Linked DNA regions of Homo sapiens: region 1 is linked to region 2. The links come from fine-mapping of genetic effects on gene expression. A gene starts in region 2. The other region holds a variant in brackets. All regions are shown on one strand. Distances are between the middles of the regions.

Evidence for each region.
Region 1: its variant is fine-mapped to the expression of SCNN1B in unexposed skin (GTEx, PIP above 0.99).

What each region holds. Positions count from the first base shown.
Region 1 is chr16:23,251,421-23,264,843 of GRCh38, reverse strand. No RefSeq gene overlaps it. Among named protein-coding and RNA genes, the nearest start is that of SCNN1B, 44 kb to the left of the region's middle. The variant A/G (reference allele first, on the strand shown) is at 6,816.
Region 2 is chr16:23,297,815-23,305,814 of GRCh38, reverse strand. It overlaps SCNN1B (sodium channel epithelial 1 subunit beta), which reads right to left and starts at 3,513. Exons shown (of 13, transcript NM_000336.3): 1 at 3,378-3,513. RefSeq lists enhancers at 3,281-3,797, 3,798-4,315.

The DNA of each region.
Region 1 (13,423 bases), 44 kb after region 2:
GGAAAGGCAAGAAAATGAATTCTCCCCTAAAGCCTCCAGAAGAGATGCAGCCTGGTTGACACCTTTGTTTTAACCCAGTGTGACCCATTTCAGACTTCTAACCTCCAGAACTTAAAAAATAAATAAATAAAGCTGTGTTATTTTAAGTCACTAAGTCTGTGGTAGCTTATTACAGCAGCAATAGGAAACTAATTCAGCAGGGGCCACTCCATGAATATTTGTGGCATTGATCGAGTAAAAGGTCTCTCCTGCTCCAATCCATCCCTGTCTTGTTACAGTGATATCTTTCTAAAATGAGGATCGAATCTCCTCATCTCCCAGCTCATGTGACTTTAACTGTCTCCCTTTAACCGAAGAGATGAGTCAAAGCCCCTTCAAGACCCTCTCAACCCTCAGTCCATCATTCCAGCCTCATCTGCTTCCCTATTTATGAGAGTCCATTTGGACATTTTGCTTCACCACAAGTTGGCCATGTTCTTCTGTGCCTACGTGCATTTTATTTTATTTGAAATAATTTTTTTTGTAGAGATGGAGTCTTGCTACGTTGCCCAGGCTGGTCTTGAACTCCTGGGCTCAAGAAATTCTCCCACTTCGGCCTCCCAAAGTGCTGGAATTACAGGCGTACCCACTGTGCTTGGCTCCTGTGTGCATTTTCATATGCCCTCCCCTCTTCCTGGGCTCTCATGCCCCACACCTGATGAAAGTCTCATCATCCTTCAAGATTCAGCTCAAATGTGACTTCTGGAAGACTTTCTCTAGCGACTCAGGTGAGAATGAGAAAAGAAAATGTTATTAAGAAAATCAAGAAGGTGTGGGCGTGGTGGCTCACTCCTGTAATCTCAGCACTTTGGGAGGCCGAGGGGGGCGGATCACCTGAAGTCAGGAGTTCGAGACCAGCCTGGCCAACATGGTGAAACCCAGTCTCTACTAAAAATACAAAAATTAGCTGGGGGTGGTGGCGGGTACCAGTAGTCCCAGCTACTCGGGAGGCTGAGGCAGGAGAATGGCTTAAATCTGGGAGGTGGAGGTTGCAGTGAGCTGAGATCACACCACTGCACTCCAGCCTGAGTGACAGAGTGAGACTCCGTCTCAAGGAAAAAAAAAAAAAAAGAAAAGAAAATCATAAGGAAGAGAAAATCTGTTTATTATTCATTAAGTGGAAGTGGATCATCACAAAGGTCTTCATCTTTGTCATCTTCACATTGAGAAGGCTGAAGAGGAAGAGGAGGGGTTGGTTTTGCTGTCTCACAGGTGGCAGAGGTGAAAGAGGTGGAGGAGGTGGAAGTGGAGGCAGGAGAGGCACGCACACTCCATGTAACTTTTATTGAAAAAAAATTTGTATGTAAGTGGACCCACACAGTTCAAACCCATGTTGTTTAAGGGTCAACTATATATAATCTATCTATCACCTATGTATCTATATCCTGGTGATCTAGGTTGTATCATAAACCTTCCCCTTTACCCCACTGCCCATATCCCAGATCAATAACCACAGTAATTTTCAGCACTCACCTATGCCCTGAATTGATCAGCCTGCACTGTACTAAGCCTCCTGCCTGTCTGCCTCCAATACCATTGGAATAGACGGCGAGCCACTCTCAAGTAGGGCTGGTGTCTTAGTTGTCCTTACATGCACTTAGGGTAAGGACCTTGGGGAGGAAACATCATCATTTCCAAAGATTAAGGACTAGCCCAGACATCCTAGTTTTATACTCATTTGATCTGTCCTCCAGAGATTTTTTTTTTTTTTTTTGAGACAAAGTCTCGCTCTGTTGCCCAGACTGGAGTGCAGTGGCATGATCTTGGCTCACTGCAACCTCCACCTCCTGGGTTCTCATGCCTCAGCCTCCCAAGTAGCTGGGATTACAGGCGTGCACCACCACGCCCAGCTAATTTTCGTATTTTTGGTAGAGATGAGGTTTCGCCATATTGGCCAGACTGGTCTTGATCTCCTGACCTCAGGTGATCTACCCGCCTCAGTCGCCCAAAGTGCTGGGATTACAGGCATGAGCCACTGCATCTGGCCCCAGATATTAAGTTAAACCTCTGAGTCACCTCTTTAAAAAAAAAAAAAGACAAAATGTAAATCACCTTTTCTTGGTTATAATAGTAATAGCTCATTCTTGTCCAGTATTTGGGAAATGTAGAAATCTATGCAGAAAAAAATAAACTCCTACCCACACCACCACCACAATCCATCAACCTATCTCCTATCATAATGGATAGGTAACATTTCTCCATCATTAACCCCACATACAGATGGAGAAATTGAGGCTTTGCAGGGTTAGGCGAGAGAGCCACAGTTTATATACTTGTGTCCTTCTGGGTCCAAGCCTGATGTCATTAACAGGCAGCAGGACTTATCTGTATGCTACATCTGTTTGTTTGGTTTTTTTTTGTCTGTTTTTGTTTTCAATTTCTGATGATCATGAACTGGACTTGAAAGGATGATTTGTATTATAGGATGCAAACCTAGAGGCCTCCAGGGGACAGGTGGGTTCCTTAATGGGCAAAGGGGCCAGGGAGGCTCTGATAAATATGCTTTCCCCCAGTTTATAGCTTAGCTTTTAATCACTTTGTTTATGATATCTTTTATCAGGTGTAAGTTGGAGTTTTCATGTCATCAAATCTAGGCTCTTTGTCCTTTATGGCTTTGGAACTTCCTGGAAAGCTTTGCAAAAGCCTTCCTTTCCCCTGGGTTATAAGATTACCTTCCTCTACTTTCCTCTAGCTCTTTCGTGTTTTTATAGATTTTTTTTTAACGTAAAAATTTAAATCTGACTGGTCTTTTAAAATATTTGAGGGTGGGATTTTTTTCTTTCTAAACAAAAAGTCAAATATCTCTATACTTTTATATAGCATTTTACCACTGATGTGAAAAATCACTGTTTATAATAAAGAAAGCTTTTTAATTACGAGAAATGTCAAATTATACAAAAGTAGCATAATGGTATAATGATCTTCTGACTTCAACACTTACCAGTGTAGGACCAATCTTTTTATTTAAATTGTGGGAAAATGAAACATATAAAATTTGTCATCTTAACTATTCAGGTATACAATTCAGTAGTGTTAAACACATGCATATTATCATACAACCAATCTCCAGAAAAACCATTTTTATTTCCTTTGTTTTTTGAGATGGAGTGTCGCTCTGTTGCCCAGGTTGGAGTGCAGTGGCATGATCTGGGCTCATTGCAACCTCTGCTTCCAGAGTTCAAGCAATTTCCAGCCAATTTTTGTATTTTTAGTAGAGATGGATTTTCACCATGTTGGCCAGGCTGGTCTTGAACTCCTGACCTCAAGTGATCTGCCCACCTTGGCCTTCTAAAGTGCTAGGATTACAGGCATGAGCCACCACTCCTGGCCTCATATTTACTTCCTAATAGCCTTATGCATATAGACTAGCTCTGATTTCAAAGATTCTATTTGTTTACTATTATATTACCACTAAACTGCTTTGTGTATTTTATTTTTAAGATTATCATGTAATAAAATTAACTGCGTACAGTTTCATGAATTTTAACACATGTATGTATTTGTGTAACTACCACCACAACTATCACCCCAGAAATCTCCCTCAGGCCACCCCTACATAGCCACATCCTCCCTCTGTAACCCTGGTAACTAATCTGTTGTCTATTAATATAGTTTTTTTCCAGAATGTCACATAAATGGAATAATATAATTGGTAACCTTTCCAGATTGGCTTCAATTACTCAGTGTAATGTCTTTGAGATTCCTCTAAGTTGTTGGGTGTATCAATAATTTGCTACCTTGCCAGGGCGTGGTGGCTCAAAGCTGTAATTCCAGCACTTTGGGAGGCTGAGGCAGGAGGATCGCTTGAGCCCAGGAGTTTGAAACCAGCCTGGGCAGCATAGTCAGACCCTGTCTCTACAAAAAATACAAAATTAGTTGGGCATGGTGGGGTGCATCTGTAGCCTCAGCTACTCATGAGGCTGAGATGGGAGGATCACTTGAGCCTGGTAAGTCGAGGCTGCAGTGAGCCGTGATCATGCTGCTATACTCCAGCCTGGGCAACAGAGTGAGACCCTGTCTCAAAAAAAAATAGTTTGCTTCCTTTTATTGCTAAGTGGCATCTCACTGAATAACTGTACCACATACAGCTGCTATATGACACTGTTTTAGCGACTGTGACTTTATAGTGGATTTCTCTATTGGGTATGGTAAGTTTCCTGCCCACCAACATTGCTCCTGTTAGTTTCCCAAAAGTGTCTTGGCCACCCCAGTGTACTGATTCCTGGGTATTTTGTGGACTTGGTTGCTATTGTGAGTGATTCCTTTATCCACCCAGTTTTCCAAGCTAGAAAACTCAAAGATATCTCAGGAACAATAGTAACAAAAAACTGTGCAAGACCCTTCTGAAGAAAACTATAAACCTATACAGAAAGGCCTGAATAAAGACTTCAATGCTTAGGACATGTTCCTGAATGTGGCAATTCAGTATTGGAAAGATGTTTATTCTCTCCAAATTAATTGAGATGCTTTGTAAGTTTGATTGATTTTAATCTCTCTCTTTCCCCTTCCTTCTCTCCATTCCTTCCTCCCTTCCTTCCTTCCTTCCTTCGTTCTCTCCCTCCCTCCCTTGCTGCCTCCCTCTCTCTCTCTCTTTCATTTCCTTTCTTTCTTTTCCTTCCTTCCTTCCTTCCTTCCTTCCTTCCTTCCTTCCTTCCTTCCTTCCTTCCTTCCTTCCTTCCTTCCCTCCCTCCCTCCCTCCCTCCCTCCCTCTCTCTCTCTCTGTCTGTCTCTCTTTCTTTCTTTCTCTTTCTTTCTTGACAGAGTCTTGCTCTGTCACCCAGGGTGGAGTGCAGTGGTGCTATCACGGCTCACTGCAGCCTCCACCTCCTGGGCTCAAGCAATCCTCCAGCCTCAGCCTTTCGAGAAGCTGGGACCACAGGTGCAAGCCACCACACCCAGCTACTTTTTGTATTTTTTGTAGATATGGAGTTTCACCATGTTGCCCAGGCTGGTCTCGAACTCCTGGGCTCAAGCAATTCTCCCACTTCAGCCTCTCAAAGTGCTGGGATTACAGGCATAAGTCACTGCGCCTGGCAGGTCTTTCCTCTATCAAGTCTGCCCTTTTCCCTCTTTCCCTTCTCCAACTTCTGTTTCTAATTTTACATATTTTCCCCTTCTACTTTCTTTTGATTTCTTTTGTTTTACTTTTCCTAATTTCTTGAGTTGAATGCATAGTCCACTTACTTTAGAATTTTTTTTTTATTAACAAAAGTATTTAAGGCTAGGCATTTTCCTCTGAATACCACCTTGGCAGCATTCTCCAAAACAGTTGATGTGCACTTGAATGGCATTACTTGAGGTCAGGAGTTCGAGAACAGCCTGGCCAACATTATGAAGCCCTGTCTCTACCAAAAACATACAAAAAAGTGGGCGCCTGTAATCCTAGATACTCTGGAGGCTGAGGCAGGAGAATTGCTTGAGCCCAGGAGGCAGAGGTTGCAATGAATTGAGATCCCGCCACTGAACTACAGCATGGGCGACAGAACAAGACTCCGTCTCAAACAACACAGAACAAAAATCCCCATATATTCTGTATGAATGGGGACTCATTCATTTAATGTGACAAAAACCTGACTCAATCCAGCTTAAGCCAGAAAAAGGAAACTTATTGGAATTAATTGATATTTATCATCATAGGGAATATTGGTATCCCTGTGTCCACTGGATCCGGCACTATGCTGACGTCCACAGAAGCTGTTCCTCATGTCTCCACCTGCTGGCTCTGTTCTCTGAGCTGCCCTTCCCTCCAGCCAGTGTGCAGTTCTGCAAACCTCTTTCCCAACCTCTCCAAGGAAAGCCCCAGCCCTGACTCTCCTTTGTCTGGCAATCATCAGGCCTAGAGAAACAGGGCTGGGTATAGTGGCTCACCCATGTAATCCCAGCACTTTGGGAAGCTGAGGTGGGGGGATGGCTTGAGGCCAGGAGTTTGAGACCAGCCTGGGCAACATAGTGAGACCCCATCTCTATAATGAGAGAGAGAGAGAGAGAGAGAGAGAGAGAGAGAAACAGGATGATCTGGTTAGGGTTGTGGATGCTGGGCTGACAGAACACCTGGTGTCCAGTACCTGGTTTATGTGGCCACCCTCTCTTCCTAAATACCTCTATAATCATGGCCAGGTAGGCCCATCTCAAAATTTTACTGTCTCCTTAACGGGGTATAAAATGTTTCGTCACTTCTTCCCAGCCTCTCTTTACAGCCTTGGCTTCCCGTTGTCTTCCTTTCTCCCACACCCTGTGTTCTAGCTACAGCAAACTACTCCTTATTTCCAAACAAATGTGTACTTTCTTTCTCTGCCTTCGTACATGCTGTTCCTTTGGCTAGGAATACCTTTTTCCCCCTTAGTCATCCTTTAAGATCCTAAGTCACGCCCGAGAATCACTTGGGCACAGTTGGGGCACTTCCTCTCTGAGTTCCTACCTGCTGCTGCTATTGCACCTTGCGTCCTGAACAAGACTAACTCATGTGCAATTGTCTCCCCTTCAAGACATCAGGACCGGGCCAGGCGTGGTGGCTCTTGCCTGTGATCCCAACACTTTGGGAGGCCAAGGCAGGAGGATTGCTTGAGCCCAGGAGTTCAAGGCTGAAGTGAGCTGTGATCACACCACTGCACTCCAGCCTGGGCGACAGAGTGAGATCCCGGCTGTGGGGGAAAAAAAAAAAAAAAAAAAAAGACATCAGGACTGGATCGCTGAAGGCAAAGACTGTGCCTGGACAATTTCCATGCAGCATCTATAATGTAATAGATATTCAGTAAAAGTCTGTTGAAAGAATGTGC[A/G]GATGCTCTCAGCTCTCCTGTACTCTGTATTATTTTACCATTTTTGTGCACTGTAGGTTTCTGTGTACTTTTCCTCCCAATGGCCAGTACCTTTGGCCTTCACTGGAGGGCTGCACATAGGCTGCTAGGACCTGCTTTTCCTGCATGTTCAAGAAAACCAGAAATACCTGAAAGTTTTCATGCCCCGGGGACAGCCCTTAACTCATGACTGACAGTGTGGGGATAGAAATCCTCCAGTTCCTTTGCCCTAATGACCCACAGTGTCCCAAAGCTCCCCTGGAGGGTCAAGCCTCAATTACCCTCTGTGTGACTTTACTTGATAACACACCTTTGTCTAACCTTCTTTCTCGCCCCATTCCCCTTCTCCACTTCTCTACCAATTTTCTCTGGGAACACTTATGAATCACTTTCACACAGCCTGGCTTTGTGGTGTCCACCTGCTGCCCGAGCTACTCAGGCTGAAGTGGGAAGATCTCTTGAGCCCAGGAGTTTGAGGCCAGCATGGACAACATAGCAAGACCCCATCTCTGAAAAAAAAAAAAAAAAACCACAAAACCAAAAACCAAACAACAACAACAACAACAAAATCACTTTCATATAAATTCTCTGTCTCAGATCCCCAGATCTGCTTTTGGGGAAACAAATCTAAAACAGAGTTAATGATTCAATGAACAGAAAGAAAAGAATAATAGCTGAGTGCGGCAGCTCACATCTGTAATCTCAGCACTTTGGGAGGCTGAGGCAGGAGGATGGCTTGAGCCCAGGAGTTGGAGGCTGCAGTGAGCTGTGATTGTGCCACTGCACTCCAACCTGGTTGACAGAACAAGACCCTATCTTAAAAAAAAAAAAAAAAGAAAGAAAAAGAAAAGAAAGAAAGAAAGGAGAGAAAATAATAATGAATCCAGAAACCAATAAATATTTATTGATCACCAACTGCATTGGAAGAAACAGGAGCAGGAGGAGGTTCTTTGCCAGGATTTATCTTCTTAAAGAGACAAGATTTGCACATTTAGAAAATGAACTAGTCTATAAATATATATTTAGTACATGAAATGAAATGTGAAGAGGACGCAGGGACATGACTTGAGAAGAGGGGACTGAATGTGAACATGGGGATGTCAGAGACTAATGAGACTTCAGAGGTGGAAGTGGGACTTGATTTGGGGTTTGAAGGGAGGATGAGATGGAGCAGGCAAAGACCCAGTGAATACAGTGGTGGGACCAGAGTAAAATGATGAGAGTTTAAGGCCGGGTAATGCAGACTTGGAATCCATTCAAATAAGTCTGGACTTTATCTCATAAGGTGATGGTGGAAGGTGGTCAACATTTATTTCTTCACTCAACAAACATTTATTGAGAGTCTATAACTTGCGGCACACCCAGACAGGAACAAGGTGTACTCTTAGAAGGGTGTTCCTTAAGTGAACTGCCTGTTCTGGCCACAAGAATCTTGACTGTATTTGTTTGTAGGATCCACCTATAATTTCTGGAGAGATTTTTTTTCTTACACACGCAGTTTTATCAGTTGTATATCTAATCTTCTGATTATAGGGGAAAGATCATCATTATCACTACAAAAATTCAAATATTTGGAGAGCTCTGCACCATGGAAAAGGAACGTCTTCTATCCAGAGAGAGGACTAGAAATCTTTTTCCTGTGTTTCAAATAACTTTTATTTTCTCAAATAGAACCTTACTTGATAGTATAATTTGATTCCATGCTTATATAATATAATATAATATTTAATTTTATTTTTATTATATATTTTTAAGACAGGGTCTGATTCTGTCACCCAGACTGGAGTGCAGTGGCATGATCTTGGCTCTGCAAGATCATGCCTCCCACTATCCTCCCACCTCAGCCTTCCAAGTAGCTGCGACTACAGGCGTGAGCCACAACACCCAGCCAATTTTTGTATTTTTTTTAGAGATGGGGTTTCACCATGTTGCCCAGGTTGGTCTCGAACTCCTGGGCTCAGCTTCCCAAAGTGCTGGGATTACAGGTGTGAGCCATCATGCCTTGCCAGGCTTATATAGTATTTTTATTTATTTCTTTATTATTATTATTACTTTGAGAGGGAGTCTCACTCTGTTGCCTAGGCTGGAGTGCAGTGGTACGATCTTGGCTCACTGCAACCTTCGCCTCCTGGGTTCAAGCAGTTCTCCTGCCTCAGCCTCCCGAATAGCTGGGATTATAGGCACGCACCACCATGCCCAACTAATTTTTGTATTTTTACTAGAGATGGGGTTTCACCATGTTGGCCAGGCTAGTCTTGAACCCCTGACCTCAGGTGATCCGCCCACCTTGGCATCCCAAAGTGCTGGGATTACAGGTATGAACCACCACACCCGGCCTTATATAGTATTTTAAAAGTAATTGTTATATGTTTTTGTTTTATTCTTTTTTTTTTTTTTTAATTTGGCCAGGCATGGTGGCTCACGCTTGTAATCCCAGCACTTTGGGAAGCTGAGGCAGGTGGATCACTTGAGGTCAAAAGCTCAAGACCAGCCTGGCCAACATGGTGAAACCCAGTCTCTACTAAAAACAAAAACACAAAAATTAGCCAGGTGTGGTGGCATGCGCCTGTAATCCCAGTTACTCAGGAGGCTGAGGCAGGAGAATTGCTTGAACTAGGGAGGTGGAGGTTGCAGTTGCGCCACTGCACTCCAGCCTGGGGGACAGAGTGAGATTCAGTCTCAAAAAAAACACAAAAAACGTTTATTTTAGATTTAGGGGATACACGTGCAAGTTTGTTACATGGGTATGTGGCTTGATGCTGAGTTTTGGGTATGACTGAACCCATTGCCCACGTAGTGAGCATAGTACCCAATAGGTAGTTTTTCAACCCCTTGCCCCACTCCCTCCCTTCCCACTCTTAGAGTCTCCAGTGTCTATTGTTCCTATCAACAGTGGGTTAGATAAAGAAAATGTGGTACATACTCACCATGGAATACAACACAGGCACAGCCATAAAAAAGAATGAAATCATGTCCTTTGCAGTAACAGGAATGCATCTAGAGGCCATTGTCTTAAGGGAATTAATTAATGCAGAAACAGAAAACCAAATACCACACGTTCTCACTTGTAAGTGGGAGCTAAACATTGGTACACATGGAACTTTTCTTGAATGCAGCTGGGCTCTCCCTTACCCTGTGGAAATCTGTTGGGAAGTAGAAAATCTCTGGGGTTGGTTTCGGGCTTGTGGCCCCCAGGAATAATTACCTGCAGGAACTGTGTCAGCCAACGTCTACCCTGCATTTCTGTTTTTCCCCAAGCCTTCAGTTAAATCTGGCTCAATACCTTCATTATGCTTCCAAAGGGGGTTAAGTGAAGTTTAAGCCTGTGTCTGTAATTGGAATGGTGTGGGGACCACAGAGCCGATGACTCAAGGTGAACCGCAAAGTCCTGAGCAGCCACAGTTCAGAGCAAGGCTGGGGGCACTGGCAAGTGACATAAGAATGGAACGTCTAAGCATTCCTTGGAGAGTCACATAGGTCACACAGCAGACCGCACTTTCTACTCTCTGGGAAAGCTGGGGATTGTAGTCAGTACAGCTTGAACATTTGAAAAAAATGCAGCTTTATTTGGTAGACATGGTCTGGTGATGTCTGGAAAGCCCCTCATCTCATCTATTATATATTTTCATAGAGAATGTGAGGAGCCCTCCACAAAGGTTTTATCCATTTATAGAAACACCAACAGCTAACCAGAGAGCCTGTTTCTCTTTATCCTCTCAAATACTGGGCATTACCAAATTTTATTATTTGCCAATCCAATAGGTGAAATTTAACGAAATATATGACTGGCATATATTTAATCATTAGTTAAGTTTGAGCATCTCTTATATATAAGGTTTGAGCATCCCATATATATTATATAATATGTATTATATATTATATATTATATATGTATTACATATATAGCGTATAATAACGCATTAATATATTGTAATTAATATATGATCTTGGCTCTGCAAGATCTGCCTCCCACTGTCCTCCCACCCCAGGCTTCCGAGTAGCTGGGACTACAGGTGTGAGCCACAACACCCAGCCAATTTTTGTATTTTTTTGTAGAGATGGGGTTCCACCATGTTGCCCAGGTTGGTCTCAAACTCCTGGACTCAAGTGATCTGCCTGCCTCAGCTTCCCAAAGGGCTGGTATTACAGGTGTGAGCCATCATTATAATATAGTCCCCAGTGTTTATCATTCCTTTCCTATTGTTCCTAGTATATAATATATAATCATATATTGTAATATTAATATAACAATATAATTAATATAATATTAATGTAACAATATAATTAATATAATATTAATATAACAATATAATTAATATAATATTAATGTAACAATATAATTAATATAATATTAATGTAACAATATAATTAATATATTAATGTAACAATATAATTAATATTAATATAACAATATAATTAATATAATATTAATGTAACAATATAATTAATATAATATTAATGTAACAATATAATTAATATATTAATGTAACAATATAATTAATATTAATGTAACAATATAATTAATATATTAATGTAACATTATAATTAATATAATATTAATGTAACAATATAATTAATATATTAATGTAACAATATAATTAAGATAATATTAATGTAACAATATAATTAATATAATAATACAATAATATAATTAATATAATATTAAAATAATAATATAATTAATATAATATTAAAATAATATATTAATATAATATTAAAATAATATAATTAATATAATATTAAAATAATATATTAATATAATATTAAAATAATATAATTAATATAATATTAATATAATAGTATAATTAATATATTATTAACATGGTATAATTAATATAATATCAATATAATAATATAATTAATATATTATTAATATAATAGTATAATTAATATAATATCAATATAATAGTATAATTAATATATTATTAATATAATAGTATAATTAATATATTATCATAGTAATATGATAATTAATTAATATATAGTATAGTATATAATAATGTATTACATATATTATATATAATATGTATTACACATATACTACATATAATATGTAGTACATATATACTATATATAATATGTAGTACATTCATTATATATAATATCACATATATAGTAGATAATATTACATATATTATATATAATGCATGTACATATTATATATATACGTATTATATATATATTATATATATTTTGGAGATGGGGGTCTCACATGTTGGCCAGGCTGGAGGGCAGTGGCACAATTATAGCTCACTGCAGCCTCAAACTCCTGGGTTCAAGAGATCCTCTCGCCTCAAACTCCTGAGTAGCTAGGACTACAGATGTTAGGAACCATGCCCAGCTAATTTTGTTTCTGTTTGTTTGTTTGTTTTCGTAAAGACAGTTTCTCACTATGTTGCCCAGGCTGATCTCGAACTCCTGGGCTGAAGCGATCCTCCCACCTCAGCCTCCCAAAGTGCTAAGATTACAGGTATGAGCCACCACGCCCAGCCTTTTAGTATATTTTTTAGTCATTTTTATTTCTTCTGGAGTTGACTGGTCATGACCTTGACAGTTTTGGTCCCCATTTGTTTGTACTTTTCTCATTGACTTGTAAGAGCTCTTGATATATAAACAATATCATCTATTTTGCTTGACATATCCTGCAGGTGGTATTCCCGGTGGAATATAATTAATGATCATGAGACTGTTTCTTTCAGTTTTTATAACATTTACTGCATCTTATTTTTTTAGCTGTAGTTTTAAATCCTTACCTTCATTCTCTTTAGACCTAGTTCTGGGCTTACTGGGGCAGAGCGCTCACTGCCAGTCCTGTCACATTAGATATTCTATGCATTCGATCTTCATTTTGGTTCATTTTCCAACTGGCTGCATTACGTCTTCAAGTAGATTTTTCCAGATGAGTGATAGTGTTCTGATACTTGAGTTATTCCACATTTGAGAATGTTTTTCAGTTCTCTTTACACATGAGCAATATTCTAACTGTGCATATAATTCAGCAATCTATTGATATTGCTCTTACATTCCGGATGGATGTAACAGTGGGGGAATGAGGAATAGAGGGAGTGAACTGTGTGAATCAGAAATGAATGGAAGATATGGCCAGGCGTGGTGGCTCACACCTGTAATCCCAACACATTGGGATGCTGAAATGGGTGGATCACTTGAGGTCAGGAGCTCGAGACCAGCCTGGCTAACATGGTGAAACCCTGTCTCTACTGAAAACACAAAAAGTAGCCAGGCGTGGTGGTGCCTATAATCCCAGCTACTTGGGAGGCTGAGCTGGGAGGATCGCTCGAACCTGGGAGGTGGAGGTTGCAGTGAGCGGAGACTGTGTCACTGCACTCCAGCCTGGGCAACAAAGTGAGACTCCATCTCAAAAATAAATAAATAAATAAATAATTAAATAAGAAGATAAAAAAAATGAATGGAAGACAGAGTTGGAGACAGAGGCTGTGGACAGGTTTTGGAGGCCCTTGAAAGCCAGCACAGAGGGCACTGAAGGCCTCTGGTCACAGGGAGGACATACACACAGACAAGTTTTGGGAAGATTAGTCTGGCAAAGGTAATGCCAAGATTTAGGGGAGAGA
Region 2 (8,000 bases):
TAAGGGGGCAGCTGAGTGTCTGGCCCAGAGTTGCCAGCTTTTCTTTTCTTTCTTTCTTTTCCTTTTTTGAGGCAGGGTCTCACTCTGTTGCCCAAGCTGGAGTACAACTGTGTGATCACAGCTCACTGTAGTCTCAACCTCCTGGGCTCAGGGGAGCCTCTCACCTCAGCTTCCCCTGTAGCTGGGACTGTAGGTACATGCCACCACACCCAGGTTATATATATATATATATATATAATATATATATATATATATATATATATATATATATATATATATAATATATATATTTGGTAGAGATGGGTTTTTGCCATGTTGCTCAGACTGATATTGATCTCCTAAGCTCAAGCAACTCGCTGGTCTCGATCTCCTAAGCTCAAACAACCCACCCTCCTTGGTCTCCCAAAGTGCTGGGATTACAGGTGTGAACCACCATGCCTGGCCATTGCCAGCTTTACTGATATCTCAAGAGGATCCAGAAATATGGAGTCTTATATGAACTGATTTTTAAAATCTTGGGAATAATCTAAAAATTTAAAAGTCCACAGGCCTTCTTTGTGACTTTTGCTATCTCTTGTATTCCAAAGGGGAGCACCTCAGCTCACTTCATTTCTGTGTCTTAACCCAGGACCAGGCACACCTTAGGCCTTTTGTAAGTAACATGACACTTCTGGACTCCACAGTAAGCTGGGCTTGGCTCTCAACAAGCGGAAATCTCTTCTTTGGCTCAGGGCTCAGTGCAAAGGACCCTCTGGTCTGTACTTGGGGTGTGGATGAAGTCACAAACAGTGGCTCTAGGCATCACCCCTGCGTCCCCCCACCACCCAAGGGCCATCTCCAGGTCTCCCCTGTTCAGGAAAAGACTTCCTGCTTACTGATGCTGATGAGTCCCTAAGCATTTTATTTACATCACCCCACTAATCCACCTAACAGTTTGGGGAGGGTGCCATTATTATCATGCCCATTTTACAGATGTGAAAACTACGGCTCAGGGAGGGGAAGGGAATTGCCTGAACTAGGAAGGGGTGAAGCTGGGATTATAATGTAGTGTCTCTGATTCTAGCTTTTCATCAACCCAGATCATGGGTTCCACCAAACTTTTAAGGGTCCTGTCAGTCTATAGCAAACACACTCTCTTTAGGCCACAGCCTGGACCTACAGTTTGTGGTACACAAACAGGACCCTGGACAGTCCAATCTGCCAGTCCGTGGTTCGTGGTTCTCAGCTCCTTCTGTCTGCTATTGGAGGCTGAGTTTGGCTTTGGAGGGCATCTAGAGAGAACCCCTGGAGGTGGCCCCGATGGAACCTCTGCCCATTGGGGCATGGCCAGGCAGAACTAGTGGCCTGGCTGAGTCTCAGCCTTAGGGACCTGCAGAGACTGCAGCTAGAGAAAGTGTGGTGTTTGTCCTTGGTCATAGACAGAATAGAGGTGTGTGCACACACCTGTGTGTGTGTATGCATGCATGTACACTTGCTTGTGTGTATGTCTCATGTATGTGTGCCCGTGTGTGCTTGTGTGTGAACATGCATATGTACACACATGTGTGCATGTGTGTGTGTGCATGCATTCATGGGTCCGTATGTGAGCAGTGGAAAAGAGAGGACCTCATCCCCTAAATTCAGATCCTGTGAAGTTAGTTTAGGATAAAGAAAAATAAATTGAACTTAACCCAGAGATAACAATTTATAGAAGATGCTGAAATAAAAACCAACCTGAAAATTTTTGTCACCTAAATTCCCATCGGTAGGCATTATCCACGGCGGGAATCCATGCAGCAGTTTAAATAAATAAGCTGGGTTTATATGCAGCAGCATGGATAACTGGTGATGAGAGGGCTCAAGTTGCAGAATGACATAGGTGGGTTGTACCATTTCTACTTCTAGTTCTATTTTTCTGAAACAGAGTCTTGCTCTTTCACTCAGGCTAGAGTGCAATGGTGCCATCTCAGCTCACTGCAACCTCCACCTCCTGGGTTCAAGCGATCCACCTGCGTCAGCCTCCTGAGTAGCTGGGATTACAGGCACATACCACTATGCCCGGCTAATTTTTTTTTTTTTTTTTGTAGAAATGGGGTTTCACCATGTAGGCTGGGCTGGTCTCAAACTCCTGACCTCAAGTGATCCGCCCTCCTCAGCCTCCCAAGGGTTGCATCATTTCTATTAAATATCCACCTACAACATTACTACATTACTAAGTATTTTACATATTTTCTATGGCTCTGTATATATGACTGTGTAGGTGGGGGAAAGGGTCTAGAAGGAAACACTCCAAATTATGAAGGTGTTTACCTTTGGGGAGCTGGGAGGGCAGGGGTGGAAGATTACAGAGGAAGAAGAATGGATCCCTGTGTTCTGCATGGAATTACACAGCTCAATGGGTAGGCAGGTTGGGTCACTCACGGATGCTGGGATCTGAGACAGGGGTGCTCAGGTCTCTGGGAGCTTTCAGACCCATCCACCCGGCTTTGTGAGAGCTGGGCTGCCAGGGACCAAAGCCAGTCTTGGTTGTTCTGCCCCTACTCCCTGGTGGAGGTGAGTGGGAAGATGTGCCTTTTGTGGACTGGAGGTCTCTGCTGCTTCCTCCCTAAACTCTGTGCCTCATTTTCCCCCTCCACGCTAGAGTGAGAATGTCCCTGTACTATATCCCAGACCCTTTCCCTCCACAGCACACCTAAGTCATATGACATTGTCCAGACATCAACTTAGCACTTGAGAATCCTCAGCGCAGACAACTGCAGGGCGTTCGGATCTGGCCTCCTCCACCACATCACCCCAAATGAAACCCACGTTCCCCGGACGCCACTGACAGCCCACGAGGTAGGCTCCAGGGTCGGACTGCCTGGGTTCAAATCTGAGCTCAGCAACTTGTTCCTGGGACGTAGGGAAGCTTCCCCACCCTCTGACCCTCAGTTTGCACCTCTGCAAAATGGGGACAGCAAGAGAACCACCCCACAGGGATGCCCTGTGAGCGAAGTTAGGTCGTTTGAGCAAGGCGCTCTGCTGAGCTGTGCCCAGCACGTAGAAAGCGCTCTCGAGTTTCATTGTTGTCACCTCTTGAACAACTTCTTGCCCCGCCCACTCTATGCCAGGACTTTGCCGCCGTCTCTGAGGTCCCAGACACGCCGGGGACCCTGGCCCCGTCTGCCTTCTGCACCCTGGGGGCTTTTCCCAGCCTCCAGCTCTCCCCTCCGCCCCCAACCCGTTCAGTCCCCAGGCCGGGTCCCAGGCGCCTCAGACAGGCACCCAAGCGCCCTCCCGTGGGAAACTGAGGCCGGGACAGGAGCTCGCGGGCCGGGGTTGGGCAGGAGAAGGCGCGCGCGCAGGGACTCCGGGCAGCGCGCGGGAGACCGGGTGCGAGCCAGGGTTCGCCGTCATACCTGCTCGGGCGGCGGAGCGGGGACACGGAGGATGCGCGCTGTCGGCGGTGGCGGAGGCGGCGGTGCGCGCCAAGCTGGCGGCGGCGGCCGAGTGTTGGTGACACTGGGACACCCGGCGAGCGCGGCGAGACCGACTGGGAGGGAGCAGGTTCAGGGGCGGGGAAGCACGGGGAGCGCCCGCGGGTGGAGCTTACTGGGCGCTACCGGCCTGGCCACACGCACGGTCCCGGCTCCCCTGGCCACCTCCCTCGCCTCCCAATAAGCTCCAGCCCCCACACGCCAGGTTCAGGGACACTGGACGCCCCCCGCACGCACGCGCTCCGCATTCTCCCTCCCCACCTCGGGACACCAGCGATACCCACATGCGCCACGAATATGTCCACAGACCCCTCATCCGAGTGTACCCCACGTCCCCTCAGTACATATCACAAGCCACATATATGAACACTCCATCCCACCCCACGCGTGTACCTGTCCCGTTCACCTAGGCGAAGCATCGCGCTCACCAGTACAGGCGCGCCCCCATCACATCCACACCCCTGCAGACACAGTGTCCTCTGGGCAAGTTGGTGACTTTAGGGGGACATATGCAGCCACTTTTCCCAGGAACGTTCTTCCCTCCGCCTCTTCCACCTCCACCAAGGTGGAGACCTCCCAGATCTCAGTCATCCCCGATAGGTCCTATCTTTGCATTAGAAATTCAAACAGCCCACCCCGAGATTGGGAACTCTGGCCCCCTCTGGAGTGCCCACTACACCTGTGCTCTAGCCTCAGGGCACTGGCGGGCCTTGCGCATTTCCTCGAATCTTCCCTTCCTTTTCTTTTCTCTTCTCATCAAGTCAAGGTTTCAGGACTATCATTTCAGCCACTTTCTTGCCAATATCCTTAACACTTAGTTTCCTGTATATTTCTCCATAGATTGTCTTAATGCAGTCATTCTCAAAATTTTTGGTCTTAGGAATCTTTTGTATTTTTCTTTTCTTTTCTTTCTTTCTCTTTCCTTTCTTTCTCTCTCTCTCTCTCCACCTCCCTCCCTCCCTACCTCTCTCTTTCTTCTTTCTTTCTTTCTTTTTTTTTTGACAGAGTCTCACTCTGTTGCCCAGGCTGGAGTGCAGTGGTGTCATCTCAGCTCACTGTAACCTCCACTTCCCGGAATCAAGCAATTCTCCTGCCTCAGCCTCCCTAGTAGCTGGGATTACAGGCATGCACCACCATGCCCGGCTAATTTGTGTTTTTTGTAGAGATGGGTTTTCTTCATATTGGCCAGGCTGGTCTGGAACTCCTGGACTCAAGTGATCCACCCGCCTCGGGCTCCCAAAGTGTTGGGATTACAGGTGTGAGCCACCATGCCCAGCCAGGAATCTTCTGTACTTTTAAAAATTACAGAATACCTGAGACTTTTTGTTTATGTGGAATACACACACACACACACACACACACACACGTGTTTTTAACACATATATGTTATTTTGTTTATATAATGATACTTTCCATATGAGAAACTAAAACTGATACCTAAAAATATTTATTAATGCATTACACTATAATAAACCCACTACTTGTTGACATAAATAAAAGGCTTTTTTACAATTTTTTTCTTTTTTTGGTAAAGAGAGACAGGGTCTCAATTTGTTGCCCAGGCTAGAGCGCAGTGGTGTGACCCCTGCAGCCTCAAACTCTTGGGCTCAAGCCATCTTCCTGCCTTAGCTGGGACTACAAGGTGTGTGTGCCACTGCTTCCGGCTAATTAAAAAAAGTTTATTTTTCTGGAGACAAAGTCTTGCTGTGTTACCCAAGCTGGTCTCAAATACCTGGCCTCAAGCAATCTTCCCACTTCAGCCTCCCAAAGAGCTGAGATAACAGGTGTGAGCCATCATGCCTGGCTGAAAAATATTTTTCAAAAAAAAAAAATCAGTGGGAAGGGCACTGTTTAGCATTTTTGCAAATCTCTTTAATGCTTGGCTTAATAAGAGACAGCTGGATTCTCGTATTCAGTCGGCTGCAATCTGTTGTTTTAGTTGAAGTAAATGAAGTAAATTCAGCTTCATATAACTTGACCCACCATTGCTTTTTTTTTCAGTCTTTTTTATTTATTATTATTATACTTTAAGTTCTGGGATACATGTGCAGAACGTGCAGGTTTGTTACACAGGTATACACGTGCCATGGTGGTTTGCTGCACCCATCAACCCATCATCTACATTAGGTATTTCTCCTAATGCTCTCCGTCCCCTAGCCCTCCACCCCCTGACAGGCTCTGGTGTGTGATGCTCCCCTCCCTGTGTCCATGTGTTCTCATTGTTCAACTCCCACTTATGAGTGAGAACATGCAGTGTTTGGTTTTCTGTTCCTGTGTCAGTTTGCTGAGAGTGATGGTTTCCAGCTTCATCCATGTCCCTGCAAAGGACATGAACTCATCCTTTTTTATGGCTGCATAGTATTTCATGGTGTATATGTGCCACATTTTCTTTATCCAGTCTATCATTGATGGGCATTTGGGTTGGTTCCAAGTCTTTGCTATTGTGAATAGTGCCGCAATAAACATACATGTGCATGTGTCTTTATAGCAGCATGATTTATAATCCTTTGGGTATATACCCAGTAACGGGACTGCTGAGTCAAATGGTATTTCTTGTTCTAGATCCTTGAGGAATCGCGATACTGTCTTCCACAATGGTTGAACTAATTTACACTCCAACCAACAGTGTAAAAGCGTTCCTATTTCTCCACATCCTCTCCAGCATCTGTTGTTTCCTGACTTTTTAATGATTGCCATTCTAACTGGTGTGAGATGGTATCTCATTGTGGTTTTGATTTGCATTTCTGTAATGACCAGTGATGACCTACCATTGCTTTTGCACTGTCAGGGAAAATGTCCACAGGTGAAAAAGGCAAATAACATCTTAGGATTCTTATGAAAGTGATTTTGACCTCACAGTTTCTCCTGAAAGGATCTCTGGGACCTCCCAGGGGTCTGTGGACCTCACTTTGAAAATCAATGCTTCCCAGGTGTATTTGGTTGTGACCATATAAAATTGTTGATATTTGACTATTATTGACCTATGAAAATAGCAATTTCGGCTGGGCGGGGTGGCTAATGCCTGTAATCCTAGCACTTTGGGAGGCCAAGGTGGGCGGATTGCCTGAGCTCAGGAGTTCGAGACCAGCCTGGGCAACATGGTGAAGCCCCATCTCTACTAAAATACAAAAAATTAGCCAGGCATGGTGGTGCGCACCTGTAATCCCAGCTTCTCAAGAGGCTGAGGTGGGAGAATCACTTGAACCCGGGAGGCGGAGGTTGCAGTGAGCCAAGATTGTGCCACTGCACTCTAGCCTGGGTGACAGAGTGAGACTCAATCTCGAAAAAAAAAAAAAAAAAGAAAAAGAAAAAGCAAAAAGCAAAAAAAAGAACATAGCAATTTCATATGGTTCAACCCAATACGTTATTTTTGAAGGTTTTCTTTTGGGGCCCTGTTGGACAGTTTTAGAATGAGTCCCCTGTGGAACTGTGCTGTTGTGACCAGCTTTATACAACTGACATCTTCATTCTGTGTCATGATTTCCATTGTTGGAGAGTTGGAGTTTTGGGATGTCTGGGAACTCCAGACTGGTTGATGTTAGGCTGGCAAGTTTTAAGGCATGAATGTTTAAGCAACTATGAACAAAGAGTGTTGTGTTCTGTAGTTAACTTGGCCTCCTGAGGAGAAAACCAACTTGTTTCCCCTTTTTATTAGGGTCTACAGTCTGACACCATTAGACAGCATCCATATGGACTTTAGCCAGCTGTTTAGAACTGTGGATCGTTTTGAGGTAGGAAGTAGGCAAAACTTGACTCTGGATAAGTTTGAATACTGGCCAAACACGGAAGAGGCACCAACAGCACCTCTCCATGAAACAAGGCCATCAGTGCCATTATAGTTTACCATTGTCATGGCAACGCCGGGAAGTTACCGCCCATTTTCTAGCTATCTCTGAATAACCTGCCCCCTTAATTAGCATGTCATTAAAAGTGGGTATAAATATGACTGCTAGGCTGCTCTGGCCGTCATGGGGTAGCCTTGCTCTGCAGGAGCAGGGACAGAGCCTAACACTGCTGCTGCCTCAATAAGGCATTTTCTTCCACCACCAGCTAGCTGGCTCTTGAATTCCTTCCTGAATGAAGCCAAGAACCTGCCCTGCATTAATTTGGCCAAATTTTAAAAAACTCTTTTTATGGATGAAGATTCATGGGTTAAATTATGGCACAGTCAGATGAATTCACGTCTGAAAGGGTTAATGACTGGTTTGGGAGGTCTCTCAGGGACCCCCCAAAAAATGTTCTATTGAATATTTTTGTAGTATTGTGGAAAGACAGTCCTTTTGCTTTCTTTGGGTTAGTGCAATTCTAGGAGATGAGATCAGCCAATCTAGCCCTAGAAATCCATGAGATGTTAGATGTTGAAGCCATATTACCCTTTATAACCACCATCTCACACAATACTTTGCATAGAAGACAAGGTGAATATTCTTTTTTGGGGGTGTGGGAGAGTTGGGGACACCAAACATCCATTCATTCTACTTCAGGTAACTGCACTTAGTTTAGCTCTGGGGTCACCACTCCTTTTTCACCCCTCATCTGTATTTT